Regions from separate parts of the Homo sapiens genome. Here region 2 is linked to region 1. The links come from fine-mapping of genetic effects on gene expression. A gene starts in region 1. The other region holds a variant in brackets. All regions are shown on one strand. Distances are from middle to middle.

Evidence for each region. PIP is the estimated chance that this variant, and not a neighbour inherited with it, causes the effect.
Region 2: its variant is the best candidate, but not a certain one, in a credible set for the expression of CISD2 in whole blood (INTERVAL, PIP 0.82).

What each region holds. Positions count from the first base shown.
Region 1 is chr4:102,861,535-102,877,740 of GRCh38, forward strand. CISD2 (CDGSH iron sulfur domain 2) reads left to right here and starts at 7,458. Exons shown (of 3, transcript NM_001008388.5): 1 at 7,458-7,653. The coding sequence starts at 7,551. It also overlaps a transcript of UBE2D3 not described here. RefSeq lists an enhancer at 6,909-7,048 and silencers at 7,279-7,568, 7,599-7,718.
Region 2 is chr4:102,888,739-102,904,944 of GRCh38, forward strand. CISD2 (CDGSH iron sulfur domain 2) reads left to right here. Exons shown (of 3, transcript NM_001008388.5): 3 at 1-4,069. It overlaps SLC9B1 (solute carrier family 9 member B1), which reads right to left. Exons shown (of 12, transcript NM_139173.4): 12 at 12,190-12,594. The coding sequence ends at 12,379. It also overlaps the pseudogene PABPC1P7. Among named protein-coding and RNA genes, the nearest start is that of CISD2, 28 kb to the left of the region's middle. The variant C/T (reference allele first, on the strand shown) is at 3,423.

The DNA of each region.
Region 1 (16,206 bases):
GCATTATGCAGGTTCCTTCTTCATGCCTAGTTCATCGGTGCTTGGAGTAGCTAGTTCCATAAACTTCTGAGGTAATAAGAATCTGCCTTGTTATTTTATTATTTAATGACTATATTTATAGATTACAGTAACCATGGAATTTCTAAGGCAAAAAAGATGGCTTCCAAAATAGCAAAAGAAACTTCAAAGATCTATGGAATTAAGCTTTTAATTATGCACATATGCATATACAATTATGTATATCATATATGTGCTTTGTAACCATAATCTTTTGTCTAGTCAATGACTGCAAAAGTGGTATGTCAGTATACACTTACAGAATTATAGAAAAGAGAAGCTTTCTTCAGAGCTCACTCTATTCTATCATGTGTTTGCTTGTTTATTTATTTATTATGGATTGACTGACAGGGTCTCACTCTGTTGCTCAGGCTGGGGTGCAGAGGCATAATCATACCTCACTGTAACCTTAAACTCCTGGCCTGAGGTGATCCTCCCACCTTGGCTATATAGATAATTCTATATACTGTTAGTTTTTAGTACCACAAAGTGTTATGGAAGGTGATTTCAAAATAGTTTCGCCATGTTATTGATTTATAGATCCCAGTTTTGTTTCTTTAGTTTTCCATTTATTTCTAGTTTGCTGGACTTCCTCTTAAAACTGTGGGGTTAAGGCAAGGCAGTTCCAAATGTAGTTCCTCATACACAAAGGGGAAGTAAGAACACCAAACACCAAAATCAAAATGTTCTAATAAAAAAAGTTTATCTCTTTAAAATGTTGAATAGACAGATTTAATAATAATTCTTTTTTTAAAAAAATTGATTAGTTTCTCATATGATAATCATTATTTTAACCCCAACCTATAGTCCACTGTAAGTATCCTTTTAATTTGTTAAAGCATATTAGTTGTTCCATTAATTTCATCTACTTTTCCAATCCATCAATCTGTGATTCCTTTTACCTTTCTCTTATTTTGGGTTTCTTATACCTTGATCAAATGTCCTACTTTTTCTTAGTTTATTCCTCATTTAGGTGGAACACATCCTCTATTAGCTTTCTGAGAAGAGAATGCGTAGATTGTGTATTTTTTAAACCTTTTAGGTTTGAAAATGAGTTTATTGTAGTTTCACAATGGGTTCTTGGTTTGGATTGGTATAGAATTCTAAATTATAGGTAGTTTTTCTTCAGATATTTTAAGAATTGCCCTTTAACTACCAGAGCTACTGTTAAGAAGTCCAGTACATTTAACTTTTGTAGTATGTGTCTCAGTCTGTTTGGGTTGCTGTAAAGGAATACCTGAGGTTGGGTCATTTATTTAAATAAGAGGTTTATTTGGCTCATGGTTCTGCAGGCTGTACAAGAAGCATGATGCCAGTATCTGCTTCTTGTGAAATCTTCAGACTGCTTACACTGAGGGCAGAAGGCAAGAGGAACCCATGAATACACAGTTCACATGGTGAGAGAGAAAGGCCAGAAGTGAGGGGTATGGGTATGCCCAGGCTTCTTTGTTTTTCTTTGTTTTTTTTTTCTTTTTTTGAGACAGAGTCTCACTCTGTGGCCCATGCTGGAGTGCAGTGGCACAATCTTGGCTCATAGCAACCTCCGTCTCCCAGGATCAAGCGATTCTCCTGCCTCAGCCTCCCAAGTAGCTGGGATTACAGGTGTGTGCCACCACACCCAGCTAATTTTTGTATTTTTAGTAGAGATGGGGTTTCACTATGTTGGCCAGTCTGGTCTCGAACTCCTGACGTCAGGTGAGCCACCCACCTTGGCCTCCCAAAGTGCCGGGATTACAGGCGTGAGCCACCGAGCCCGGCCCCAGGCTCTTTTTAACAACTACCTCTCACAGGAGCGAACAGAGTAAGAACTAATTATCACAAGGACTATACCAAACCATTCAGGAGGGAACCACCCCTATGACCCAAACACCTCCCACTAGGCCCTACCAACAACATTGGGGATCAAATTTCTTTTTCTTTTTTGAGACAGTCTCACTCTGTGACCCAGGCTGGTTGCAGTGGTACAATCTCAGCTCACTGCAACCTCCATCTCCCGGGTTCAAGTGATTCTCATGCCTCAGCCACCTGAGTAGCTGGGGTTACAGGTATGTGCTACCACACCTGGCTAATTTTTGTATTTTTAGTAGAGATGGGGTTTCACCATGTTGGCCAGGCTGGTCTTGAACTCCTGGTCTCAAGTGATCTGCCCAGCTCAGCCTCCCAAAGTGCTGGGATTACAGACGTGGGTCACCGTGCCCAGCTGGGATCAAATTTCAATATGAGACTTGGAGGGGTCAAACAAACCACATCTAGAGAAAGAGCTCCAGAAATCTGCATGGGGTTCCTTAAGCATTTTATATTAGTAACAATCTTACATACTCAATAGCCATGTTATTAGTATTGACACATTACATAATTACATTGATCATGTAGATCTAGACCAACCACTGTGAAAAAAACAAGGTGCAGCTAATAATAAAAAAGATGAGTTGATAATGAGGTAAAAAAAATGATGAAGATGAAATATCATACTAACTATGCATGTATATGTGCCAGGTACTGTTTTAATTGCTATCTATGTCTTAATTCAGTGAATATACACAACACAACCTTAAGATGTAGGTATTACCTACATTTTTACAGGTTATATAATTTATCCTAGTAGAATCAGAATTGTAGTCTAAACAGTGTGGCTCCAAGAGTCTACAGTCTTAACTATAATGCTGTATGTAATTCCTTGCAGTAAGTAGACAGTAGTAGTGTTTTGTTATATTGTTATTAAATGCCCTTTCTTGACCAAATAAAAAATTGGCAAACCTATCTTGACTTCCCAATTTATCCAGGAATGGGCTGACAGAGCAGAAAAAGACAGGGTTTCAAAACTAAATCAAAGGATGTTTAGTGGCAGTAAAAATGTACCAGAATGTGAGATTGTGGTCACCAGTAAAATTGCTGAATTTAAGGTCTGAAAGCCAGAGTAAAGGGTCATTCATTGATGGTAAAGACGATAATGATAATAACCATTCATTGAGTATATTACAAAATTAATTGTATCTAGTCATAACCACTGGTATCACCATATCAAAGAGAAGAAAACTGAGGCCCTAATTAATTTTCAGTAAAAAGTTAAGTTTTTCATACAACTTGACAAGAGGACTCTGAAATTCATAGAGTAGTAACAAGGCCAGGCATTCACAATGCAATTTGAAGAAAACAGGTGGGGAAGCTTATCTTGCTAGATATTAACACTTACTTATATAGTTGTAGCAATTATGACAGTATGGTATTGTTATAGAGGTTATACAAATACAGCAATGGAAGAGAATAAGCAACCCAGGATGTGTGGAAACCTGATTTGAGATAAGTGACATTACAAACCACAAAAACAAGTTTAACTCTTCAATAAATGGTGCTAGAACATAGTTGTCTGTATGTAAAATAATAACAAATGAGAGTAGATCCCTTTCTCATGCACAAAAAGTAAGTACTGGGTTGAGTAAAGCCCTAATATGAAGAATATAAGTTTAAAACTTTTAGCAAAAACACAGGTGAATACCTTTGTGATTTAGGGGTAGAAAAAGATTTCTTAAACAAGACTCCCAGAACACAAATTGTAAAGAAAAAGATGAATAAATTTGACTACACCCAAACCAAATTTCAGTATAAAAACAGACATACACGGCCAGGCACGGTGGCTCACGCCTGTAATCCCAGCACTTTGGGAGGCAGAGGCAGGTGGATCATGAGGTCAGGAGTTCAAGACCAGCCTGGCAAATATGGTGAAACCTCGTCTCTACTAAAAATACAAAAATTAGCCGGGAGTGGTGGCGGGCGCCTGTAGTCCCAGCTACATGGAAGGCTGAGGCAGGAGGATCACTTGAACCTGGGAGGCAGAGGTTGTAGTGAGCTGAGATCGCGCCATTGCACTCCAGCCTGGGCAACAGAGACTCTGTCTCAACCAAAAAAAAAAAAAAAAAAGACATACACTAGGAGAAGATAAGCAACAGGAAAAGATAAGCAACCAATGTAACCAACAAGGTAATATTTTCCAGAAAACATGTACCAGTGAAACTGATGAACAAACCAATAGCACAGTGGGCAAAGATGTCAAGAGCAGACTAGTAGGCATTTGGAATTAGACTCCTAGAATTAAGATTAGCCTAAAGAAATCTGGGCTGGAAATAGAGATTTGGGCTATATCTTAACGATCATATTTGAATTTGGGGCACTGGATGACCTAATGGGAAAAAAACATGAAAGAAATAAAAGTCTTGGGCCTAGCTAGGACAGGCAGAAGATGAGTGATCCAAGCTCAAGTGCTTGAAAGTAAATAATGACTCCTTTAACTGTATTTACATATTTATCTTGAGTTTTCTGACCACAGTTTCTTTATGTCTTTTAAAGATGGAGTCTAAAAACACTATCGCATAAGGTGGTCAGATAAGCCTATTACATCTATTTAGAGCAATATTATCTTTAGACCATGTTTCATGTGCAGCCAAGAAGGCAGGGTTGTGGAAATGAAATACAAATATAAATGAAAACAGGATTTAAATTTTAAGTAAAGGGAATTTAAGAAAATATTCCTTTTAAGTGGATAATAAGGATTTTTAAATTGGTGGAGTTAGGAATTATCTCCTATTACACATTCGCATAGCTCATGTAATGCATCAGAATACCTAATATATGATCCACACCTTTTCTCTGAATTTCAAGGCCTCCCAAAAAAGTTTTATCCATATAGACTTGCATTCACTACATTTTTTCTACTTGAAAATAGCAAACCAGCTATTCACATAAACTGCTAAGAGGAAGTAAGCCAACCATAAAAAATTACATACTGTAAAATTACTTATATGTGAGGGTCAAAAACATGCACAGCAATACAGAATAGTAGTAATGGTGGTGGATGTGGTTGGAAGGGTCGCTTTTTAAAAACGCCTCTATTGAACATTCTGTATATTGATGTGGGTGGTGGTTACCTGGAACTGTACATTTGGCATTTGAGCATTTTACTATATCTTTAAATTGAGGTATGTATTTTTTAATTCTTTAAAGAAAAACTGCTTGGAGGTCTTATTCTTAATGCACAACAATCACAAACATTAAATTTATACAGTCCAGAGAATGTAAAGTTGCTTTAAAAAAATTCTTTCCTTTTCTCACTTTAAAATACCAAGGGGAAAAATTAAACTCAACACAGCACGTCTTGCCCTTGTCAAGATGACAGATCCTCTAAGAGAAGAAACGAATAGGTAATGGCCTTTTCCAGATTTTCTTTTCCTAATGTACCCCACTTCCAACCTACCCCTACCTCAACTAGGGTATCTAGTTGTACCCAAGGGTGCTTCTACATTAGATCCACAGAGATTAAAGATAACAGTTAACAGAATAGTCCAGAGGACAAGGATATTCAAGTTCCATCATCTTCAGGATAAAAAAGCTCCAGGGTTTACCTCCAAACTCTCTCTAAAGGAAATCCCATCAACCTTTTAAACATCACTTTGTATACACCATCTTCTATACTGCCCTAGCTCAAAAACATGAACCTGTATCTAAACGTGTTTGTAGAATTTCCATTGTAAGTTTTACTTTAACAATTTTGAACAATTATAATGATAGAAAATTATTTAATCTAGATTTTGGTCAACTCTATTACTGATATTCTTTTTTAGTGAAGGACAATCACAAACACTAAATTTATACAGTCCAGAGAATGAAAGATTGCTTTAAAAAATTCCTTCCTTTTCTCACTGTAAAATAAAAATACCAAGGGGAAAAATGGAAAGTATTTATTATAACTGGCTGTTACACTGTCATACACAATGAAATACTGGACCATTAGCAGTTCGTTATTATATGTTGTTAAGTGTAGAACTGTAAATAATGAGGCATATTATTAAGATATCACACACATTATCCAATCAGCAAGTGCACAACTTCGGACATTTTGACTTCAGCCAAAATATGAAACAAAGTCATAGCAAGAAAGTTATTTCAAGGGAGTGAAATTTTCTCCTCTTACCCTTCAAATCTTTTAGAGATATTAATAAAAACAACTATCCAGCCTGGGCGATATAATGGGACTCCATCTACATACACACAAAAATTTTTAAAATTCGTTGGGTGTGGCAGCACACGCCTGTAAACCCAGCTACTTGGAAGGCTGAGGCAGAAGGATCCCTTAAGCCGGAGTTAGAGTCTGCGGTGAGCTATGATCTGACCACTGCACTACAGCCTGGGCGATAGAGCGAAACCTTGTAACAACAACAACAACAACAAAATTAAAACCTTCAAGATCAAGCTTGCCCAACAGGATGGCTTTGAATGCCACTCAATGCAAATCTGTAAACTTTCTTAAAACTTTATGAAAAAAAATTTTTTTTTAGCTCATTAGCTACCATTAGTGTTAGTGTATTTATGTGTGGCCCAAGACAATTCTTCTTCCAGTGTGGCCTAGGGAAGCCATAAGGACCCCCTGCGCTAGACTTCAGCAGAAGCCTTGTAACATAAAGAAAACCATACATAAGGCTTTAGATTCTTTTTTTTTTTTTTTTTTGTGACGGAGTCTTGCTCTGTCTCCCAGGCTAGAGTGCAGTGGCACATTCTCGGCTCACTGCAACCTCCGCCTCCCTGGTTCAAGCGATTCTCCTGCCTCAGTCTCCCGAGTAGCTGGGACAGGCACCTGCCACCGCGCCCGGCTAATTTTTCTATTTTTAGTAGAGACGGGGTTTCACCATCTTGACCTGGCTGGCCTCGAACTCCTGACCTCGTGATCCACCCGCCTCGGCCTCCCTAAGTGCTGGGATTACAGACGTGAGCCACCGCGCCCGGCCAGCTTTGGATTCTTTTACCACTTTCCCGAAGGAAAAGGAACTGAAAATATCTAAGGAAGGACTACTACGAATCTTCTCTGAGTGGCAAAAACCAGAGGTTTTTGGAGCTAGGGCTGCAGTTAAGTTGCCAAGGGGCAGAGATGTAAACAGTTCCTGGTTTAGTTAAAATATTTTAATTTTTATTTTTTTAAGCCTGGCCTTTGGGTGAAGGAGTAAAATTAGGCACTGGGGTCTGGGTAGGGGGAGGATACTCATGGGCGAGTATGCAACCCTAGGGCCACAGCACCCAAACTGTAGGGGAAGAGGCGGGGCGAGAGGGGACGAAGTAGAGACAGCAAGAGACTCACTTTTGAAAGGCACTTTCGGTTAGAAAGCATTCTCACATGCTTATCTCATCGCACACAGTATCCTTTCTGCTGGTCTCCAGCATCTACAGACGTTAAAGGCCCAAGAGGAGGGCCACCTTCACACGAGATTCCGAGGAGGGCCTCGCTACCCGCCAGTTCCCGCGCCTCGGCAGTCCGCCGCGAGCGTACGTCACTCGCCCGCCGCCAATCGGCGCCCGGCAGGTCACCTCTCCTCCCAGGGCCCGCCGCCCCGCCCGCCGCCCAGGCCGAGGCCGCCAGTGCCCGCCGGCCGCTTCCGCTCCCGGCGCAGGCGCGGCAGCTTGGCCAGAGCGGAGGGGGCTCGGGAGAGGAGTGGACGCCGCTGGCCAGGATGGTGCTGGAGAGCGTGGCCCGTATCGTGAAGGTGCAGCTCCCTGCATATCTGAAGCGGCTCCCAGTCCCTGAAAGCATTACCGGGTTCGCTAGGCTCACAGGTAATCCTCCCCCATCAGCCAGTCCCCATCCTTGCACGTTCGCCAAGCGGGGGAAGGAGGCGTAAAAATCCTAGGGCCAAGGGGCGGGACGGAGCTCGGCGCCTGGCACGTGATCCCCGCGCGCAGAGGAAGGTGGGCGCGCGCCGACGCAGCTGCCTGGGGAACGCCTGTGAGGCAGTCTCCGGGTGCTTGATGCCCCAGGGTCTTTTGTCCTCGGAGTTGTCTCCGGTGTCATTCCGTGGCAAGATACCAGGTTTTTGCAGAGAAGGTGCTGAGTTGGGAACAGGCCAGTCTCTTTCATCTCCTGTCCTGCTCATCGCTCTCTGTAGCGTACTTGTTTATTTTAAAGCGGGCTAAGTCGTCGTTATCTAAGGCCTCATGTAACAGGCAGCCCCAGCTACCGGCTGGGTTGTACCCTCAGCATGTGGGTGGGAGTGTGTGGGAGAGAAATATAGACTTACACGTAACACGTATATGACCGTTTTATTTAGTAACGAAATTAGGAGATAACCTCCATTCCCTCAGGTTAGAATTGACCTATCATAGGTGGCATTTGAGGTCATCTCCGTTTCTACGGTCCCGGGGCCCGCTGCGGTAACTTAAGTTGGAAGAAAGATACCTTACCCAAGAAAGTATTCGAAGGCCGGTATGAGGAGTGAAATCTTAGAAAATGAAATTTAGTGAATATATGTAACGTTCTATACTTAAGGACCCTCACTTAACCCACACAACTCATGAGGATTTCACATCTAAAGGATGAAAATCTCCAGAATGCAGTCAACACTTGGGAGATTGTGTTGAGTTATGAGCATTTCATTGTAAGGGGGATATTTCTAAACGGAACTCAGACCGAGTAGGATGGTGAAGGAATCAGCAAGTATTGAACTCCTATGTCCTAGGTTATCAGGGAGTGCAAACATGAATTAAGATAATTCTGAGGTAAATAGGGTTGCTTCGCCGGGAACGTTCTAAAGATCTGTAGTACCTGACCTAAAATACAGCAATCGCACAGCTGTCTGGTAGAAGAAAAATAAGATTTGTGTAGACTAAAATATAGAACTGATAACAAATTAACCAAATTAGTGAAGGTTATTGGGAGGTGAATTTCAGTCTAAGGAAGATTTTTTTTTAAATTAAAGAATGCTTTCCCCAAACAAATGTGGTGCTTCAGTGATAGCCCCTCTCAAAGATGAAAAAAACAAACAAAAAGACTCTGGTGGTGGGTGGTCGATAGATTTAGAAGGGATAAACTAGATGACAAATTCTCTTCCAAATCTAGAGATTCATTGAATTATGGTCAGACAGACGCTCTGTTGAGTGGATTGTGAGATTTTAATATTTTTTAAATATTAAGAGTTTTAGTAGAAAACATGCAATTGAATAGAAAGCATGGTAACAATAATAAACATTAAAAAGGAACATTAAACATCAGAAGCAATGCAAAAGTAAAATAAAATGAAAAACGTTTCACATCAAGTGTTTATAAACATCAGATCTTTTGATCCTACCAGTTTACTCTGACAGAATTGCAGCAATTCCATAAAATTTTGGCTTTCCCCACTTCTTTTACTTAAGTACTTTACATATTTTAATATAATCCTCATTTTTTCCCTAACAACTAAATACTTATTTTAGTTTTAACATCACAATGGGCCTAACCATTCATTCCCTTACAACTGGAAATTAGAAATGTTTCTATTTTTTAAAATTCATTATGTAATAGTTCATTGGCAAGTAAGCAAATACCAGTTGTCATATTTCTCCCTTTTGGATGTCTTCACTTAAATAGCAATACCAGGCCAAAACGGTATGATCATATTGTGACTTTTGTACCCTTTTGTCATTTTGACATTTGTACCTTCTTACTAATTTGCATAAGTTAACTGTTGAGGAATTTTTAACAGTCAAGAAAGGAAAATGTCCAATGAATTACCTATGTTTTTTCCAGATGGTGGCTGCATTTGTATTAGTTTCGATTCTCTGTAAATCAAGTATAATTGAAGAAAATTAGAAAGTATGAAACTAGATTTAATGGCTAGATTTTAGAAGTATGCTTTCTTTTCTTGAGGATCCCTAGTGTCAACAAATATTTAATTCCTATTAAAGACATTAAGAAAACTCAACCAAAACCTTTTCTCTCTTAAGAATATATAGTAACTTCCTCTTAAAAGTTGTTAAATATTTAATATGAAGACTGATTCTCAGAAATAATGACCATTCTGAGAAGTATTTTAATAACATACATTTAACTTAAGTCCCATTACAGTGTGGCTATAGTTAATAGTTCTCATTTTATTGCTGGTTTATTTAGGAAACATGAACATGCTTGTAATAACTGGTTTATGAAAAACATGAGATAGCCCTTTTTGGATTGGACAAAACAATTGCAGGGTTTATTTTGGAGTACTATAGAAGAAAAATTTCAGTGGCTATTTTCCACTCTCGGTCTCCCATTCTGAATAGATTGTAACAGTTAATGACATTTGGCTTTCTTAAATGAGTTACTTGTAGAATCCATAATGTACACTTTTGTTAAAATAAAAACCTGGAAGACAACTTTTTAGCAATTGTTTAAAATGTCTAGGAGACCAAAAAATATTTCCATTTTCTTCTATGAAAATTAGAGCAAAAAACAATACAGTTCACATTATTATTGCCTACATTTCCTTCCCTATTTAAATCTAGCTGTTTTTTAAAGCTATTGACTCTCTTATGATGACTCTGCATTCTTAGAAACCACATGGAGATCTTTAATGACCATATACTAGTTAAATACAGGCAGTTCTCACCTATCAGAAACAACTTAACTATCTTTGTTTATGTCACATTTTCAAGAGTGAGGCGTTCAAGATAAATTACTGTGATTATCTAATTTATGTTTAACTTAGGTTTTTGTTTTGTTTTGTTTTTTGAGAGGGAGTCTCTTTTGCCCACACTGGAGTGCAGTGTCGGCTCACTGCAACCTCTGCCTCCTGGGTTCAAGCGATGCTTATGCCTCAGCCTCCTAAGTAGCCGGGACTACAGGCATGTGCCACCATGCCTGGCTAATTTTTTGTATTTTTAGTAGAGACGGAGTTTCACCATGTTGGCCAGTCTGGTCTTGAACTCCTGACCTCAGGTAATCCGTCTGCCTCGGCCGCCCAAAGTGCTGGGATTACAGGTGTGAGCCACTGCGCCCAGCCCTACCTTAGGTTTTAAGTGGTAATAGTAAACTCATGCATTGAAAATATTTTATCTTTTCTACAGTTAAGAAATAGAAATAATTTCTGTGTTTAGCTACATATGATAAATGAGAAAATATGTTATAAAATAACTAGCAACCAAGCTGCCAGTATTATTTTTATGGTATCATAAGATGATATGGCTATATTATATGTAGATGTTTGAAAATTTGAAATGGAAAAATTCTGTTCTAGTTCTGTGGAATGTAATTCCTCATTAAGATCGGAGTTTGTCTATGTCATTTTTATGTCATTTTATGTCATTTTTAGCTATTATTAAAAAATGTTTTAATAATAGTATTTATATGTCATAAGGAATAGGTGTCATAGCTAGCCTGTGTCACTATATATAATAAAAGGTTAAACCTAATTTTGTTTCCCAAAGAAGATACTTCATTTTGACAATGTCTAAACTTTCAGAAAATTTATGCTAAAATTGGTAGCTACCGTATTATTCCGTTTTCATACTGCTATAAAGAACTACGCAAGACTGGGTAATTTATAAAGGAAAGAGGTTTAATCCACTCACAGTTCAGCATGGCTGGGGAGGCCTTAGGAAACGTACAATCATGGCGGAAGGCGAAGGGGAAACAAGGCACCTTCTTCACATCATGGCAGGAAGTAGTGCCGAGCAAAGGAGGAAGAGCCCCTTATAAAACCATCAGATATCATGAGAACTCACTCACTATCACCAGAACAGCATGGGGGATACCACACCCATAATCCAATTACCTCCACCTGGTCTTTCCCTTGGCACGAGATTATGGGGATTATAATTCAAGATGAGATTTCAGTGGGGACACAAAGCCTGACCAAATCAGCTATTCAAGTTGCTTTGAAATTTTCTTTTCTGACTAGATTTTGGTTTTCTTTTGTGAGAAAGGGTTTCACTCTGTTGCCCAGGCTGGAGTGCAGGTGGCATGATCTCTACCCACTCATTGCAGCCTTGACTTCACAAGCTCAAGCCATCCTCCCACCTCAACCTCTTGAGTAGCTGGTACTACAGGTGCACGCTACCACACCTGGCTCATTTTTTTGTATCTTATTTTAGAGACGGGGTTTTGCCATGTTGCCCAGGCTGGTCTTGAGCTCCTGAGCTTAAGCTATCCACTCACCTCAGCCTCCCAAAGTGCTGAAATTATAGGTGTGAGGCACTGTGAGTGGCCTAGATTTTGTTTCTCTGATGGTGCTGGTTCTTTCATTCTTCCTTTTTGGTCCTGTTATTTATCTTAATAGTGGGATACGTGGAAGGCTGAGGCAAGAGAATTGCTTGAGTCGTGGCACTACATTCCAGCCTAGGCAGCAGAGCGAAACCGTCTCAAAAAAAAAAAAAAAAAAAAAGGGATGTAAAAGTCAATATGTATATTAGGTCCTTGCTCAGTATTGAGCTCAATAAGAAGATGAACAACTCACATTTAAAAATTGGCAAAACAGGCCAGGTACGGTGTGGCTCATGCCTTTAATCCCACCGCTTTGGAAGGCTGAGGCAGGCAGATCACTTGAGGTTGGGAGTACGAAACTAGCCTGGCCAACATGGTGAAACCCCGTCTCTACTAAAAATGCAAAAATTAGCCGGGTGTGGTAGTGCACACTTGTATTCTCAGCTACTCAGGAGGCCAAGGCAGGAGAATCGCTTGAACCCAGGAGGCAGAGGTCACAGTAAGCTGAGATCGTGCCACTGCACTCCAGCCTGGGCAACAGAGTAAGACTCTGTCTTCAAAAAAAAAAAAAAATTGGCAAAACAGAAAAATGAACAAAATCTTATCCTTTGCAGCAATATGGATGCAGCTGGAGACCATTATCCTAAGGAGATTAACACAGAAACAGAAAACCAAATAACACATATTCTTACAACTGGGAGCTAAACATTGTGTATTCATGGACATGAAGATGGCAACAGTAGACACTGGGAACTGCTAAAGGGGAGGGAGGCAGGAGGTCAAGGGTTGAAGACTATTGGGTACTATCCTCACTACCTAGGTGGGAGGATCAGCCATATCCCAAACCTCAGCATCACACAATATACCCATATGACAAACCTGCACATTTACCTCCTCAACCTAAAATAAAAGTCGAAATTATATTAAAATATTTTAAAAAGGAAATTTGGGCACACACAAAGGGAGAACACCATGTGAAGATGGAGGCAGAGATTGGGGTGATAGACCTACAAGCTAAGGGACACCACAGCTTCTCCCTCAGATCCTCCAGAAAGAATCAACCATGCTGACACCTTGATTTTGGACTTCTCGCCACTAGAACTGTGAGTGAATACGTTTCTGTTGTTTTAAGCTAAAAAAGAAAACGAAAATGCAAGCACGAACACATTGTTCTCTGCAGTTTAGGGAATCCTAGTAGAGACTACTGCTCACATTTGTTCTCTCTTCTCTGCTTTAATGGCCACTACCTTAGTTTTATCTCAAACTATTTTCTTCCAGACCATTTCCATGGATTTTCAACAGGTTGTCTTGCCTTGTCTTCTTCCACTAGCCCTCTCTGCTATTCCTGTGGCCCTCTAATCCATCTTCCATCTGATACCAGAGTGACTTCATAGGTGAACAATTTCCTAGTTAGGCTAATATTCAAATATTTCAGTGGTTTCCTATTATGCACAGGTTAGATTCTTACTTACCTGTTGAATATCAGAGTTTGTCATCATACGGCACCTGCTCAGTTCTACAGCTCCCTTTCATTAAATTCTAACAATACTATGGTGCTTAGTTTCCCAGACACTTAATGCATGTCATATCTCCGTACCTTTGCCTATGCAGCTTCCTCTGCATGGAATGAAGCTCCTCCTCCCATATTCCCATGAACTTCTGTACTCTTCATCTTTCAGAAACCTATTTAAGTATCAAAACCTGTACAGTTTTTGCTCATGCCAGTAAAAAGTGAATAACTTGTACCTCTGCGTTGCTTCTGTATTATTGCTGATAGTACACAGTATTATGATCGTCTTTTATAGGTCTGTCTTCCATACTAAATGGCAAGCTCCTTTCTAACAGGGAGTGTGTTTTATAATTTTTGTATCTTCAGTACCTGTCCCACCACCTGATACATGTGAGTGAGGTATTACAATTTTAGAAGGTGCTGAAAGTTTTTTTCTTAAATATTTTAAGTAGTCTTCCTGTATTTTAACTTACACTGTCATTATTCATAAGCCATGAACAAAGACAAGTAAGTACAGACCTTGTAGGAATTATCTCAAATGCCAGTTTATTGGAGTACAAACTCAATTAGGCTAAAACTTACTGAGGTCTTGGTTTATGTAAGTCTCTGTTAAAGGGTAGGGAGTTAGGGATTTTTTGTTTAGTTGGGGAGGAGACAAATATTTACCTAACTATATAGTTTTAAGGCAGAATGCATTAATAGTTTGAATTGTGTTCTGTAGTTTTTACTGAGTGGGTTCCTACTTCATTCGTTTCTCCCAGCAATCCTATGAAGTTAGAAGACTCTTTACTTTTCTTTGTGCCTTGAAAATTCTGCGCTCAAGTGCTTGAGCTCCTGGCTTCTCATTCGTTAGGTCTCTGCTTAAAGGTTCTTTTTTCAGAAACCTTCCCTGACCCCTTACCTAAAATTGCAGCCACCCTACTGCTTTGCCCCAGGTTAGTTTTTCTCTTATGTCATCCTTTATTTCCTTTATAACAGTTACTATAGTCTGTGATCATCTTGTTTATTTGTTCACTTGTTTATAGTCTCTGTCCTCTGAAATATATACCCTATGAGAGAAGGGACCTTATCTATTAGCCTGTATCCCCACATAGTGCAGTTTGTGGAGTGTGGTAGGTACTAAGTAAATATTGTTGAACAAATGAGCTTACAGTTGTTATTCCTGCTTTACAGACAAAAGAAACCTGGTTCCAAGTATATGAAAATCTGGATTTATACCACAGATAAACTGAATTAGTTGTTTACTGAAGTCCTGTTATGTGCAAATTACTAAGCACTGGTTACATAGATATAAATAAGACAGCTACTGTATTTGCATTTAGCACAGTATCTCTACATAGTAGGTGTATTAGTCTGTTTTCACACTGCTATAAAGGTAACTACTCAAGAGGCCAGGTGCTGTGGCTCATGCCTGTAATCCCAGTACTTTGAGAGGCCAAGGTGGGCAGATCATGAGGTCAGGAGATCGAGACCATCCTGGTCAACATGGTGAAACCCCATCTGTACTAAAAATACAAAAAAATTAGCTGGGTTTGGTGATGCACACCTGTAATCCCAGCTACTCAGGAGGCTGAGGCAGGAGAATCACTTGAACCCCTGAGGTGGAGATTGCAGTGAGCCAAGATCATGCCACTGCACTCCAGCGTGGTGACAGAGTAAGACTCCATCTGGAAAAAAAAAAAAGATAATACCCAAGAATGGGTAATTTATAAAGGAAAGAGGTTTAGTTGACTCACAGTTCTGCATGGCTAGGTAGGCCTTAGGAAACTTACGGTCATGGTAGAAGGGAGCGCAGACACCTTCTTCACAAGGAGGCTGGAGAGAGAAGAGTGAGGAGTGAAAGGGCAAGAGCCCCTTATAAAACCAGATCTCATGCGAACAGCATGGGGAAAACCACTCCCATGATCCAATCACCTCCCACCAGTTTCCTCCCTCAACATGTGGAAATTATGGGGATTATAAGAGGTGAGATTTGGGTGGGGACACAGAGCCAAGCCATATTATTCCACCCCTGGCTCCTCCCAAATTTCACATTCATTTTGCATTTCAAAATCAATCATGCCTTCCCAACAGTCCTCCAGAGTCTTAATTCATTTCATCATTAACTCAAAAGTCCACAGTACAGAGTCTCATCTGAAACAAGGCAAGTCCCTTCCACCTATGAGCCAGTAAAATAAAACATAAGTTAGTTCCTTTTAAGATACAATGGCAGTACAGGCACTGGGTAAATACACCTATTCCAAATGGGCAAAATTGGCCAAAACAGAAGGGCCACAGGGCCCATGCAAGTCTGAAATCCAGTGGGGCAGTCATTAAATCATAAAGCTCCAAAATGTTCTCCTTGACCCCATGTCACATCTGGAGAACACTGATGCCAGGGGTAGGCTCCCATGGCCTTGGGCAGCTCCTTCAAGGGCTGGCATCGAGTGCCTGCGGCTTTTCCAGATGCATGGTGCAAGCTGTTGTTAGATATACCATTCTGGGGTCTGGAGCAGGTAGCCGCCTTCTCATGGCTCTGCCAGGCAGTGACACAGTGGGGACTCTGTGTGAGGGCTCCAACCCCACATTTCCCCTTTGCACTGCCCTAGCAGAGGTTCTCCATGAAGGCTCCACCCCTGCAGTAGACTTCTGCCTGGACATCCAGGTGTTTCCATACATCCTT
Region 2 (16,206 bases), 27 kb after region 1:
AAGGCCAGGCTGGGCAACCTAGTGCTCCGCCTCTGCTGGGCTCTGTAGGGAATCCTTTCTGTTGTAAAAGAGTTACCATTTAACTCCCTTCACTGAGTGCGTTTCTGAGACCTTGCTAGGCACTCTGGAAACTGCTTAGTTGAGAAAAGACAAATACAAAAGCTTTTCTTTAGTCTATTTAAGATACAGTTTATTCAGTTCACTTTGCTTTCTTTTTATAAGAATGTACAAGAGGCAGACAGAGGTAATCCTTCTAGAAATAAAACTAATTGTTATTGGGCACTTGTATGTACCAGACACTACACTAAGCATGGTACTTGGGTTTTTAATTTATTACATGTAATGTCAGTAGGTTCAATTATATGATCGTAACATCTTCATGACCAGCAGCATGTATTTTAGAGTTAGAAATGTAGTCTGGTTTTTGAGAAGTTTTACAAGGTGTATGTCCAAAATTGTTCTTTCCTCACATGTCAGTGGGGGATAAATACAGCATTGCTCTCACTTCTTTGACTCTGGGTGCTTTTTCGGATACATTTTCTTCAACACTGTTAAGGGGCCTCACTGTCAGATTAACCAATTATTTTTCCACAGTTGGTCACCAGACTTTGGAAAAAATCCACCTCACCAAAATTTTGGATATCCTGATCTGTGTTCATGAAATGCTCTTCTTTTTGTAAAATCTATCACTGCATCTCACAGCAACTTGTTTTCACACATGTTCTAGTGGTTCCCATAACTTAGATTTTACAGGAGGCAAATTTACTAAAAATGAGGAGACTAAAATGAATGACCAACTTTGAATTTTGTCAAATAACATTGAAAATGAATTATCTCATAAAAGGTAATTTTAATACCCCAAAAGTAAGATGGTTGTACTCTCAGAATAAAGACTTTTTCCCTGCCACATTTTCAGTTGTTAAAATATGCTAAGAGCTATGCCCATATCTTTTCCCACCTGTGCACATTTTTCAGAAGCGTAGGGTTGGTAGTAAGCTGTTGCTTTAATAACTCCTTTAAATAAGCATTATTAGCAGTTTGCATTACTTCTTGTAAATTTACACAATTTTATCTTGTCCATCTTTAAAAAATAGACATCTAATAACCAAATGTATTTGAATTGATGCAGTGTAAGTAACTTGTAGAACTTGAGGATAAGTGGTAAAAGAAAAAAAAAAGTAACTTGGCTCTTGAAATACATGTCTTCGGTTTCTAGAGCCTTCAAAATACAGCCCTGTTGTTACTGCGTCACATGATTGTTTTGAGGACTGCTTCTGCTTACCTAGGAAACTACTCATGCCTTACTCAGCAAATGAACATCACTATTACATAAACATCAGGTATCCAAAAGTGTTAGCAGGCTTGAGGTATGAATGATTCATTCATATGGGTAATTAAGCAAGTTGAATTATGGAAAGCACCTCACAATTCACACAATTCAGCTTTGAGTTCAATGCCAAATACGATGATTCATTAAGTTGACTTTGTATTTTGTAACCTAATTTGTTAATAAGTAAGTTACAGGAAGCCAATTAAGCCAGCTGCTGATCTATATAGTACTACCTTCCTCATTGTGATTCCATAGTCTTCCAATAGAAATGTGCTGTCAGAATCTGTATAGAGAGTTTGTAAATGCCACTATTTAACAAGGTTCTTAAGAATTTAGGTGGATGTTTTATTTGATACCTACCAAAGAAGCCTAAGTAATTGTATAATACTTAACCCATTTAGAATTCAGTTGTGGCAGCATAACCAATCTGGAGAGACCAGGGGAGATGTTACTAATGCTTGTACTTTATTCAGAAATGAGTGCCTCATTGGCTTGGTGCAGTGACGACACACCTGTAATCTCAGCACTTTGGGAGGCTGAGGTGGGTGGAGTACTTGATCTCAGGAGTACCATACCAGCTTGGGCAACGTGGTGAGATCTCATCTCTACAGAAAAATGCAAAAATTAGCCGGGCACAGTGGCGCACCAGTAGTCCCAGTTACTCGGGAGGCTGAGGCACAAGAATCTCTTGAGTTGAGGAGGCCAAGGTTGCAGTGAGCCAAGATTGTGCCACTGCACTCCAGCCTGGGCAACAGAAGTGAAACCCTATCTTAAAAAAAAAAAAAGTCTTTTTTTTTTTTCATCTAATCAAATTTATTGTGGCAGAAATCAGTACGAAGTTCGTAGGACAGGAGGAAACCAATATAAATATCTCAGCATTGTAGGAAATTTAACCCATGGAAAGCAGGGGTGAATTAAAGACCACTTTGAAGGCTGGGAAAAGCAGATAATTTAGATATAGTCAAAGTATGAAATCATTGATAGATCCAGAACAAGGAAATGATGTATGTGTTTACATATTACATCTACTTTATTAACAATTTTCCCTCTGTTAAACTAATATCGACTAATAGTAGTCTAGGTAAGTCAAGTTCAAATTAAGTGGTAATTGAAAAAGTCTTCTTTTTAAAAAATTTTTAATGGTAGAGGCAGCAGCTACCCAGAGTCTACTTATTCTTACTTCACATTGAATTCTAACAAGTTTGGTTATCTGATTTCTGCTTCTTAACAAATCACAAGTATCAAAAGGGTCTTGCAGAAGGGGTGAACTACAAAATGTGACAGCTGACAGCAAGTCAGGGGAACAAAAATAAATTTAAGGTGAACATTAAAGGCATAGCAGCTTGAGACAATTTATAGGATTCTGCATACAACTGTCTCTGAGGACATCACTGTGATCAAATTATACAAGTGATGTTTAGTGATGAATTGGAATCAAGATAAGTAGTATGTGTTATTCAAAAAGGCAGGATATGTGTTGCATTTGGTGGTAACAATTTCCCCTTAGCTATTTAGTTAAAAGCTTAGTGCTTAACATGTTGGAAAATTTATATGTAAAATATATTGACTTACTCGATGATTGGAGGCTTTATCACAGGAAGTTTTCCCATTCAATTGAAACATTTTTCAAGCTTAATGACTATAATTTACTACATAATTATTTATTTTGTTAAAGTTTGAGGAAAACTAAATAAAGCAGTAGCAATTTAAGTCATAATAAATTTTGTTAGATGACTTCTTCCACTTTAGGGGGAATTAAAAATCATGTTTAAAAACCACATGTGCAGCAGTTCTGTGACTCCCTCAACATCCGGTTGGCCATATAGTCCCTTTGCACCACAGAGGTTGGAGTATAGAATATGCCCAAAGCTGTTTTGTTTTGTTTTAACTATGCTTCATCATCTGAGGTTGTGTTAACATAGTTTGTCCTAATAGTCTTTTACTGGAAACTTGCTATATTTGATCATGTTCAGCAAGTAAACTAATTTTATCTACTTTCATATATTTTGAGACAAAGTCTGGCCCTGTCACCCAGGCTGGAGTGCGGGGGCATGATCGTAGCTCACTGCAGCCTCAGCCTCTTGTGCTCAAG[C/T]GATCCTCCCACCTCAGCCTCCCAAGTAGCTGAGACTACAGTCATGCTTCATCATGCCCGGCTAATTTTTTATTTTTCTAAGAGACAGAGTCTCACTGTGTTACCCAGGCTGGTCTCGAAGTCCTGGACTCAAGTGATCCTCCCTGCCTCAGCACTCCCAAAGTGCTGGGATTGCAGGCATGAGCAACCATGCCTGGTGTTTTATCTTTTGCAGAAATCCAATTTAGTAAAGTCATGTTGTAGCAAGCATCACTTTAATATAAAAAGTGTACAGCTTATATTATTAGCAATTGTACTGTTTAATTTTATATTAGTTATGGTCTTGAAGGACATTGAAAATCTGTTCAGAAAGACTATGTTTTTCAACCAGAGATGACATCACTCTAACTTTCCTTTGGTTTAAATGCTTGATTCTTCGCTTACAAAACTTCTGTTTTGAACAACTATGGTGAGAAAGTATATTTGTGATACTGTTTTCTTAGAACACTGTTGTCAGATAGATCAGCCATAATGTTAACACATTTCTGATCTCTATTATAAGGCTGTAATTTTCCAAAATAATACAGAAAAGGAGAAAAGGGTAGTACATTTCATAATTAGAGATAACCCTGTACTAGTGAGAAAATAAAAATGTCAAGTTTATTAAATTTTCAGATTTCCTGTAATTTTTCCATTACTATCCCTCATAAATTTCTCTGCATGATCACACTAAAGATATAAATTAATCACATCCATTCAACAAATTAAGAAACTCAAAACTCACAAGTACAATCTTCAACCCTATAGAATGCTACCAAGAAGTAAAATAAGATGAAGGTAGAAAGATTCTCTTTGAGGGCCAGGTGCGGTGGCTCACACCTGTAATTAATTCCAGCACTTTGGGAGGCCAAGGCGGGCAGATCGCCTAAGGTCAGGAGTTCAAGACCAGCCTGGCCAACATCGTGAAAACTCGTCTCTACAAAAATATAAAAATTAGCTGGGCATGATGGCGGATGCCTGTAATCCCAGCTACTCGGGAGGCTGAGGTGGAAGAATCGCTTGAATCCAGGAGGCAGAGGTTGCAGTGCGCCAAGGTTGTGCCATTGCATTCCAGCCTGGGCCACAGAGCAAGACTCCATCTCAAAAAAAAAAAAAAAAAAAAAAAAGAAAAAGAAAAAAGAAAGATTCACTTTGAAATGCTGCATGCAACTATTTAGCAACACATTGGAAAATCTAGAGAAAATGGGTAATTTTCTGGAAAAATATAAATGACCAAAACTAATCCAAGAAGAAATTTAAAATGTTAATAGACCAGTTACAAAGAAGAGAATGTAAAGTGATTTTTTAAAATCCATAATTTAAAAAGTACTAGGGTTGCAAGAAGGATAATTCCAATGTTATTTAAAGTATCCCAAATTTTTTTTAAAAAGAAAAACCAATTCATTTCACATAGGCAGTGCAGCATTAATATGAAAACCTGATAAACATAAGACAAAACTGTAGGCCAGGTGCAGTGGCTTACACCTGTAATCCCAGCACTTTGGGAAGCCAAGGTGGGTGGATCACTTAAGGTCAGGAGTTCAAGACCAGCCTGGACAATATGGCGAAACCCCATCTCTACTAAAAATACAAAAATTAGCCTGGCATGGTGGTGCATGCCTGTAATCCCAGCTTGAACCCAGGAGGCAGAGGTTGCAGTGAGCCGAGATCACGCCACTGCACTCCAGCCTGGGTGACAGAGCAAGTCTCCATCTCAAAACAAAAAAACAAACAAAAAAACCAAAACTATAGACCAATCTGACATACATATGAATGAATATTCTAAATAAAAACCCAGCACTGTTATCAATAATTGCAACAACAAAAAAGAGTAATACAGTATGCAAAGAGCACTGTATTTCAGGAATTCATGGGTATTTCAATATCAGTTAAGTATATTAACACAATTACATAAATGACATCAAAGAAGAGAAAAATGTGATTATATCAATAAATGCTGAGAGGGCTATTGTTAAGATTAAACATCCACTCCTAATGAAGATTCTTGAGTAAAATAGAAATTGAAGGAAAGTGTCTAAACATAACCGTTATTTATGAAACGCCTACAAAACAAGTATTTTAAATCATGAAACAACGTTTCAATTAAAACAAGGAACCAGTAGGAATAGCTGCTGTCATTATTTGTTATTAAAGATTATCTTGGAGGATCCATGAATGTAACAAGATTTTTAAATGAAATAATCAGTATAAATATATAGAAAACTTTTTGTGGATATGATTATATGCCTAGGAAATCATAGAGATTAGGAAAAACAGAAATTTCAAATATTTTAAAGAGGAATATTGGTAAGTTATTTGGAAATAAGATGATAATACAAAATATATTAGCAATAAGCACCTTGAAATGCTAGTGGTAAAAATATTCACAATAACAAAAATAATAAAGGTAAAATAAATTTACCAAGAAAGGTAGAAGATCTATAAGAAAAAAACTATAAAAATGTTACCAAAAGCTACTGAATAAGAAACACATGAGGCTAGGCGCAGTGGCTCATACCTGTAATCTCAGCACTTTGGGAGGCTGAGGCAGGAGGACTGCTTGAGCCCAGGAGTTCAAAACCAGCTTGGGCAAATTGTGAAACGCTATCTCTAACCAAAACAAAAAGCTAGTTGGGCTTGGCGCATGCTTATAGAACCAGGTACTTGGGAGGCTGAGGTGGGAGGTTGGGGCTTCAGTGAGCTGAGATCCCACCACTGCACTCCAGCCTGGGTGACAAAGTAAGACCCTGTCTCAAAAAAACAAACAAAACTCTTGTAAAAACATAAATCTAAAATTATATATAAATTCAATTAAATTCACATTAGAATCACAAAAGCATTTTAAAATTGGATTAAATTATCTTAAAGTTCATGTAGAAGAATAGTCAGAAAATTGTTCCAAAAAAAAGACTATTGAGAGGAACTTTTCTCAGCAGATATCAGCACCTACTATAGAACTATTGGAATTGATCAATTAAGAAAAACAATTGTATTAAGAATAAGCAAGAGTGGTAAAAAATTGAGAATCTACATGTAGATGAAAAATTAATATATGAAAATAAACAATTCAAAGAAAACAAAATTGGACCCTCAATTTACACTGAAGGCTTTGAAGTGACACATAAAATGATTTTTTAAATGATTTAAATACGTACATAAATGGAGACAGGAAGGGTGGGAGAGAAGCAGAAGAGAAAGAAAATAGAAGACTAAAGAACAGGAACACCTATGTGGAAAAAGGTAACACTTAATGACAAAATATGTTTTATGTGAATATCAGTTATACATAATAAATATTGGGGACATTGCCTTGTGGGTTATAATAAAGCATTAAGAAACAGAGTAGTGAACAAAAAAAGGAAAGAAAACTACCAAATTCCATGTATGATACCCCATTTTAAAATTACATAAATTAAATGTGTACACATAAGAAAATTTTAAACATTAAAATTTTGTTAATAAAACAGATTTGATAACACGAAGGCCAATGATGACCTTACCCACAGCAGTTTTGTTTAAATGGGGACTAAGGATGGAGCAAAATTTTTAGTAGAGCACTTTGAATAATGAATTAGCAAACTATAATAAACTGAAATCTTACCTACCAAATAATCTCAGTAAACAAATCTAAAAGAAATGAGTAAAACAATTGTGAGCAAAAAAGGATAGAGTCACTACATATAATGTAAATGAGACAAGGATGGCCTCTGTGTATTGGTGCCTAGGTTATTTCTTCACAGCAAGCTGAGACCCATTAGCTCAAAAGCCAACTGGCAGCAAACTCAAATTTTTAAACATCCAATTGTGTTAAACATTGCCCAGACATGCAGATTTGTAGGCATTTAGAGCCTGCCTGATTTACATGCCCTGGGAAACTGTGTCCAAAATCTGCCTGCCACAGATAAACCCTAGGCTGTAAAGACCCCAGGCTGCTTCTGCTCTTTGGAACTCTGTGAACTATAGACTCCATGCCATGCTGCTGAGTGATATCACTGAGACATGAAAGCCTCCTCTCTGATCCTTTCCTCCCTCAGGAGTTCCTTTGCCCTCCTCCCCTTCTGAGTGGTGGCCCCCTTGCCTCAATCCTCTGGTCCATCTCTTGCTGTGAAGGCCTTCCCCAGGATACAAACCTGACGAGATCATCCAGATAAAGCCCATGTGTGCTTCTGTCACATCTTTTTCTATATTTTTCTCACTTTTTTCTAAACTTTTCTAATTTTTTCTTAATTTTTATAAAATTGTGGATACCTAATAATGTAGTCTCAAAATAAATAAAGCCAAAATTAGAACTGGAAAGAGCAATAAAAAAATCCACAAACATAGTGAGAGATTTTAACAATTCATTTTTAGTAATTGAAAAAATAAACACTGCACAAACTTCCCGAGGCTCCACCCCGTAATCCCAGTGCACAGGTGGGCATTATTCAGAATCAGTGGGGAAAGGGCGGCTTCAACCAGGACCCGCAGTCCAGTTTATCTAACAGCCTTCAGGCTGTTTTAGTCTTGAAGGTGGGGTTTTACCGGGGGACCCTTGGTTGCCTCCTGTCTCTATCACTTTCACATTAGGTGCTTTGTGGTGAAAATGGTTTCAAGGGTGATGGCATTGTACATATTGAGACACAGAAGCAGCTGAAAGTTCTATTAAAAAATGAAATGGATGCTTCTAAATGACAGCAAAGTCTTTGTTGGATTAAGTCTTGTAAACAATGAGAAGCAGAACTCAGAGTTAAAAAGTTCACCAATGTTTACAGGAAGATTTTTGGAGAAGACATGGATGGTAGGTGCCTTAAAGATCTCTTTGGCAAGTTGGGATCTGTCTTAAGTGTGAAAGTAGTGGTTAATGAAAGTGGAAAACCCAAAGGTTTTGGATTTGTCAGCTTTGAAAGGCATAAAGATGCGCAGATGAGATGAACAGAAAGAAGCTCAATGGAAAACAAATTGATGTTGGTCAAGCTCAGAAAGAAGTAGAATGGCAGATGGAACTTGTGTGCAAATTTGAAAAGATCAAGCAGTATAGGATCACCAGATAACAAAGTGTTAACATTTATGCAAAAAATCTTGATGGTATTGATGAATGTCTCTGGAAAGAACTTTCTCCACTTGGTACAATCACTAATGCAAAGGTTATGAAGGATGGTTGTCACAACAAAGGGTTTGATTTGTGTATGTTTCTCCTCTCCAGAGGAAGCAACTAAAGCACTTTCAGAAATGAATGGTAGAATTGTGGGCACTGAGCCATTGTATATAGCATTAACTCCATGGGAAGAAGAGCAATGAAGAGCACCAGGCTCAGCTCATTAACCAGTACAGTATGTGCAAAGAATGGCAAGTGTAAAAACTATGCTCAACCTGGGAATCAGCCTCTATCAGCCAGCACCTTCTTCAATTTACTTCATGGTAGTTATCCCACAGACTGACAGCCATGCTGCAAAGTATTCTCCTAGCCAAACTGCTCAACTAAGATCAAATCCTCCCTAAATTGCTCAGGGTGCCAGACCTCATCCATTGAAAAATATGCCCAAGCCACTCCTAGCTCACTACATTTAGTAGTAAGAGACCAGCTTCTTCACAGCTTCCACGAGTCATGTCAACACAGCTGTTGTAACACATCAACACAGACAATAGGAGCACATTCTGCAGTTGCCGCTACTGCTACTACAGATACTCCTGCTGTTTGCACCATTTCACAGTATAAATATGCTATGGAAGTTCACAATCCTCAATGGCAGTTTCATGCACAGCCCCAAGTTACCGTGCAGCAGCCTGCTGTTCATGTAGAAGGTCAAGAACCTTTGACTTCCATGATGGCATCTGCTCCTCCTCAAAAGCAAAAGCAAACGAGTGAATGGCTCTTTCCTCTTCTTCAAGCCATGCCCTAGTCGTGCTGGTAAAATCATTGGCATGTTGTTGGAGATTGGTTATTTAGAACTTCTTCATATGCTTGAATCTCCAGAGCCTCGCTGTACTAAGGTTGACAAAGGTATAGCTGTACCACAAGACCACCAAGCTAAAGAGGCTGCCCAGAAAGCAGTTAATGGTGCCACTGGTGTTCCAATTATTTAAAACTGATCAGGGACCACAGAAAGAAACTTGCGCATCACTGAAGAAAAAATCTCAATATCAAAAACCTTAAATACTATGGAAAAAATTTGTAAAGTATAAAATAAATTTAAAAAGGAAACTTTGAACTTTACATACCAAGCAAACGTCAGATCTAACAAATGCAATGATAGTCCTAGATTACTTACTGATTTGAAAACAAAAAATCCTCCCAAAATAATAAAATATAAAAATGCTGCAATGCTTTTCAGACTCTGTGATAAATAATTTTCAGCAAAGTATAAAAATTTAAAGCATTCCTTTAATTTTGTAATTCGTTAGTGTGGAATAGCTCAGAATGTCACTTCTGTTTTAAGTAACAGAATTGATAACTGAGCAAGGAAAGGTAATTTGGATTATAAAATTTTGCTTTAATAAAAATTCCTTAAACAGTGAAAAAAATAGGCAAAGATACAAAAAGTTGATAAGAAACAACAATCTTGTATTTATTTGTTATTTTATTTTTTTGAGACGGAGTCTCGCTCTGTCACCCAGGCCGGAGTGCAGTGGCGTGATCTTGGCTCACTGCAACCTTTGCCTCCCAGGTTCAAGTGATTCTCCTGCCTCAGCCTCCCGAGTAGCCGGGACTACAGGCACCTGCCACCACGCCTGGCTAGTTTTTTGTATTTTTATTTTTTTTGTTATTTGTATTTTTGTATTTCACCATGTTAGCCAGGATGGTCTCCCTCCCCTGACCTCATGATCCACCCGCCTTGGCCTCCCAAAGTGCTGGGATGGTGTGAGCCACTGTGCCCAGCCTTATTTGTTTAAATACTATAAACACTAATATCATACACATGGTTAACTGGTTGTAATTTTTAAATTATATTAATAAATTTTTATAAAAACTTTTTATAAATAAAAAACTTAAAATTTCAAATAAATAACAACATCTGCCACACCACCTTAAAAGGGCGACTATTTCAGTATAATAAACATATATCACAGACACTTAGAGAAAGTTCAATAAATAAAGAATAAAAAGAATAGTTACAACAATTTTCCTCCTAATCAATAACACAATTCCTCATTTTGAAAATTATTTATCTCTCTTTTATTAAAATAAACTTTCTACTTTGAAATCTAATCCTCTTGTGAATGTAAAATACTATCTTGTAAATATATATATATATATTTTATTATTATTATTTTTTGAGACAGAGTCTTGCTCTGTCTCCCAGGCTGGAGTGCAGTGGTGCGATCTCAGCTCACTGCAACCTCTGCCTCCTGGGTTCAAGCGATTCTCCTGCCTTAGCCTTCTGAGTAGCTGGGATTACAGGTGTGCGCCACCACACCTGACAAATTTTTGTATTTTTAGTAGAGACGGGGTTTCACCATGTTGGTCAGGTTGGTCTCGAACTCCTGACCTCGTGATCTGCCCATGTCGGCCTCCCAAAGTGCTGGGATTACAGGCATGAGCCACAACACCCTGCTTATATTTTTATTTTCTTGTAAGTGACAATGAGATGCCCTCATGATTTAAATAGTAGTCAAAACACTGGCACAGTTTAAATTTTTAGAATTTGAGTACTAGAATTACAATATTTGAAAATGGAGTCTGTACTTTGTTGTAAAACTATAAGGAGAAAATGTCACTAAAATAGTAGCTATTTTATCTTTTCCCAGAGTTATTCTCCCAGAGTGTATTTTCTAAGAGTTATTTCCCAGAAGGTTTTAGAACTTCTGGCAGTTTCGGTGATATATTCTGTAAAAGCCCTTAGTCTTAATAGGAATAACACATAGTTTTGATTGCCTTAAATTTTAATTGCTTCACTTGGCAAATTTATGTGTAAATGTCATATTCTGTGGTATTTTAATACCTTGCTTGTGGAGAAGAGGAAAAAGAGGAATGAAAGTAATATTCAGTCCTTGCATTGAGCTTTTGCCAAAGAAGTCTAAACAATTTCTAAGATGCCATTCAATAAGGCCATTTTAGAATCGTTTATATGACTCTTATAACTTTAAAATAAAGAGTCTTGAAGTTAATTAAAACTCACTTTGCTTGTGATGGGTTCTACATTAACATGGCAGATTTAATCAGCCAGAATTAAAAGGTAATTCTATATTACTAAGGAGAAGAAACTGCCACATGACAGCAGTCTCCAAATCTTTCATTTTTGGAGGCTGCCTTTTATGCCTAGATTTTAAAATACTAATTGAAAAAAATATAGTTTACTTCCATTTGTGATTTAATTTTATTTCTATAAATAAAAATATAGATAGTGTTTCATCTAAAAACTGCTAAACCAGACTTTCATTTTAAGGGCATGGCAGAAGTAAGGAAAGACTAACTTGGTTCTATTACTGAACATATTATTTACTCAGGTAGTCACCAAAACCAGAATTTAAAATCTATTTAGTTAACCCATTTAAAGTTGATGTGTTTTATTCCTTTTCTTTCTTTTTGTGGTGATCTTTTTAACTGAATTACTGGACATCATGGGAGTTCTACTCCTTCTATTTGGAAACTTAGGCTATCTTACCAAGTTCAATATTCAAAGTTTTTCTTTCTGCCATTAAGTTTGTTTAATTTTATATTAAGCTCAGTTTGTATTATGATATCAAATTCAGCCTGAGGGATTACTTTAAACTTTCCTAGGGTATTTACAGATTTAATTTGTTCTTACAGTATGTAAATACCAAGAGAGCATTCCATTTAATATTATTTTTATTAAATTAACTTTGGAGTAAAAAGTCCAAGAAAAGCCCTGTACTGAAATCACATGTTTACTAAATCCTGGATTCTCTGTACAGTCCCCACATATTTCTACTTTAAAATTCTTCTGTCATGTGAAATAATTCATTAAAAGAAGCAGGCAGATGATGACAGGTAAACTTTTTAATGATGTTCTAATGTTGACAACTGCAGTTTTATTTTGCTTGGATCATAATGGCGTGTAAGCATTTTAGGCCCCAGAATGCCCATAAGTAGAGCTCCATTTGGAGCTGTGATCAAGATGGCTAAAAATGCTACTGTCATCACATCCTTCGCATATGGTTCCAAGTGGGGTGCGGAGACTCTTGCTGTTTCTAGAGCCAGAGGACCTAACACAGCCTGCATTTAGGGGTAAAAATGGGGCATAAAGAAAAATATTAAACTGAGTTGATATATAATGTAAATGGCTCTGTTAAAATAAACAAAATCTAGTACTAGACTATTAGAAAAAAAAAGTACTCAGTAATTTTCATAAGTTACTCATCAGTTCCATGTTCTTCCTAGCAAATATATGTGGAGGAAGAGTACAATAGTGACAAATCAGCAGGCAAACATTTTTGGGCTGATTTTGCACTCTTGTCCTCTCAGTGTTCCTCTATTCGAATATCTCTTTTGAGTGTTCATGTTGCCCTCATAACACCAGGAGTTCTAACGAAACCAGTTTTGCTTAGTTGCCTTTACCGTGTGCAAGTGGTTCTTGACTACAACAAGACAACATAAAATACTAAGGTTTCTTATGGTTCTCTAGGATTTGTTGCCCTTCTTCTCATTGTTCTCCCTATTCAGGGGGCACTGTGTTATAGCAGAACTGACAGCAGGCTTGGAATCTAGCAAACCGGGTTTGAATTCTATTTTTGCTGCAACCAGGCTAGTGACCTTGTACAAATGACTCACACTCTCTAACCTTCTACTTACTTATGTGTAAAATGAAGAACAAAATACTTATCTTACTGAATGGTTGTGAAAATTAAATATGAGAATGCAAAGAACAGCTGGCACACAGTAGGTATTCAGATAGTAGTAAGTTTCTCTCTCCCTCACTCCTCATGCCCTGCCAGGTCAGAGAATGAGTTCCTTTGAAGTTTTCGTTTTAGAATGACTGTACTGGGTCACAAGTTTTTTTCCCTAGTCACCTTCTACCACATTATTTTTAATAACATAAAGCAAATTTCTTGCTAACCCTCTTTCTTTGTGTTTAATAATCTAGGCATGAAATTGCCTTAAAATTTTGGGGAATTAAATACCAATATATAACATATTTTCTATGGAGTTGCAAAGTAACAACATAATGGTGGAAACATTACCTCTGATATGGAACATTATGGCAAAAGAACCCCTCAATTTAAGATCAATTTCTATATCCTAAATCAATAATTTAAAATGGTATCATTTTTATATCGTAACTTTTAATGTACTGAACGTGAGCCAGTGTGCTGGAGGATGCTAGGGAGAAAAAGATAATCATGCAGAAAACCAACTTGAAAGAATCTTACAGTTTAGAAGAGGATTTGAACATAAAAGAACTTCCAACAGAAAAAACAAAAAACAAAAACCAAACCCATTGACTTTTAAGAGATGATTATGATAATGGTGAAACTAGAAATAATATTTATATAGTTATATGGCATTCATCATATGGCAGGTATCATTCTTAAAGCTTTCCATTTATCAATTCATTTAATTCTTACGACAACCTTATTATGTGAGGACTTTATTAGATGATAAATGATTTCCTCCTAGTGACTGAGATTTAATATTATTTCTTTAAAAGAATCCAATTGCCAAGCTGATCTTACATTTGTAAACTAAATTATTTATTTACTCTCCTAATAGCTTCATTTTTCCACTCTAATTTTTATCAGTAACTCGAAACTGAAGAACAAGAGAAAGAGCTGAACCTTAGCCAATTTTATGTTAGCAGCAGAGAACGGTGGAAGAGGATAAAGGTGAAAATAATTTAAAATTGAAATTTAAATATTTGTTGATCTTATTTACTTGTGACATTATCGTTATCTATTATTGCTGTTGTGACTCTACTTGTATAAATAATTAATTTTTTATGTCTTGCCAGTTCCTGGAACCAGCTTGATATTCTTTGTGTAGAAGCTAGCCTGAAGCCAGCAGACAGGAATAGGCAGAAGCAGAATAATACTGCAGGACTCGAGTGAGTGGTCTCTTTCCTCATACCTGCTTTTCTTTTTTCCCTGCTTTATGAAAATTATGAAATAATAAAACAAAATTGCGAGAGTATTGTTGGAAGGAGAGAGAACAGATACTCCTTTTGTAGATTTATTATTCCCTACAGTAGACATTAAAAATAAAAAGTTATTATTTATATTACTTGAAGGTAAGATAAAATAACAACATTGTTAATTGAGCACCACCATATGCCAGAGAGAGTGCTAAGCACTTTACGTGGATTATCTCATTGAATCCTGACAACACTGCTAAGAAACAGATACAGTCATAGACTTCATTGTAAGATGAGAACACTGAAGGACTGAGAGATTAGAAAATAATTTTCCTGAGGTTATAGGCAAGTAACATGGTATTCAAAACAGGTAGTCAGGCCCTATGAACCTGCTTTTCTAACATGATAATAGAGGTTTTTTTTGCATGAAAATTTAGGAGCTTCTGTTTTGGAATAACAACTAAGAAAAGAGCCACAGGAAATTAAGGTATATTATGCTGCCAAGTTAAACAGTCTAACAATAAGTAGCAATATATTTTAGGAGGAGGAGAATATCCTTGAATAAGAGGGCAAAATTACAAGGTTTCCCTTTCTGTTCATTCATTCTTGCAGGCATGCAATACACATTTGGCTCCTGCATGTCAGGCACTGTGTTAAGTGCCAGGGAGAAATAATGAAAAACAACTGCAACAACCAGACACTGTCCCTGTCCTTACGTAGTCTATCAAGGGGGCAGGGGCAGGGATTTAGCCATTAACCAAATAGAATACAAATAAATGTGTAATTAAAAACAATAAATGTGCATTTGTGTGATGGAGTGAGTGGCAAGGTAGGAAAAGTATTTTTTAAAAAATCAATGTGTCTCTATTTTACTTTACTTTTTTTTTTTTTGGAGACAGGGTCTCATTTTGTCACCCAAGCTGGAGTGAAGTGGTGTGACCTCAGCTCATTGCAGCCTCAACCTCCTGAGTTCAAGCAATCCTCCTGCCTCAGCCCCCAAGTAGCTGTGACTACAAGTGCGTGCCAACACACCTGACTAATTTTTTTGTATTTTTTGTAGAGACGAGGTTTTACCATGTTGCTCAGGCTGGTCTTGAACTCCTGAGCTCAAGTGATCTGCCTGCCTCAGCCTCCCGAAGTGCTAGGATTCCAGGCATGAGCTACCATGCCTGGCCTGTGTCTCTACTTTTTAAAATCATAACATTTAGCTTTGTTATATTCAGCAAAATATAAAAACTCCAATTTTCAGATATATTCTTATTATATATTTTAGGAAAATAAAAAACATTTTCATAAACTTAGGAAGTACTTATTGAAAGAATACTTTTTAATTTCAAAAGAATTGCTTTTAAAACTGAGATTTAAAAAGGTTACATTGGCTGGGCCCAGTGGGTTATGCTCATAATCCCAGAACTTTAGGAGGCTGAGGCAGGAAGATCACTTGAACCTAAGAGTTCAAGACCAGCCTGGGCAACATAGCAAGACCTCTTCTCTACAAAAAAATCAGAAAAAAAAGACCAGGCGCAGTGGCTCATGCCTGTGATCCCAGCACTTTGGGAGGCTGAGGCGGGTGGATCACTTGAGGTCAGGAGTTTGAGACTAGCCTGGCCAACGTGGTGAGACCCCATCTCTACTAAAAATACAAAAATTAGCTGGGTGTGGTAGTGTGCACCTGTATAATCCCAGCTACTCAGAAGGCTGAGGCAGGAGAATCGCTTGAACCTGGGAGGTGGAGGTTGCAGTGAGCCGAGATCATGCCA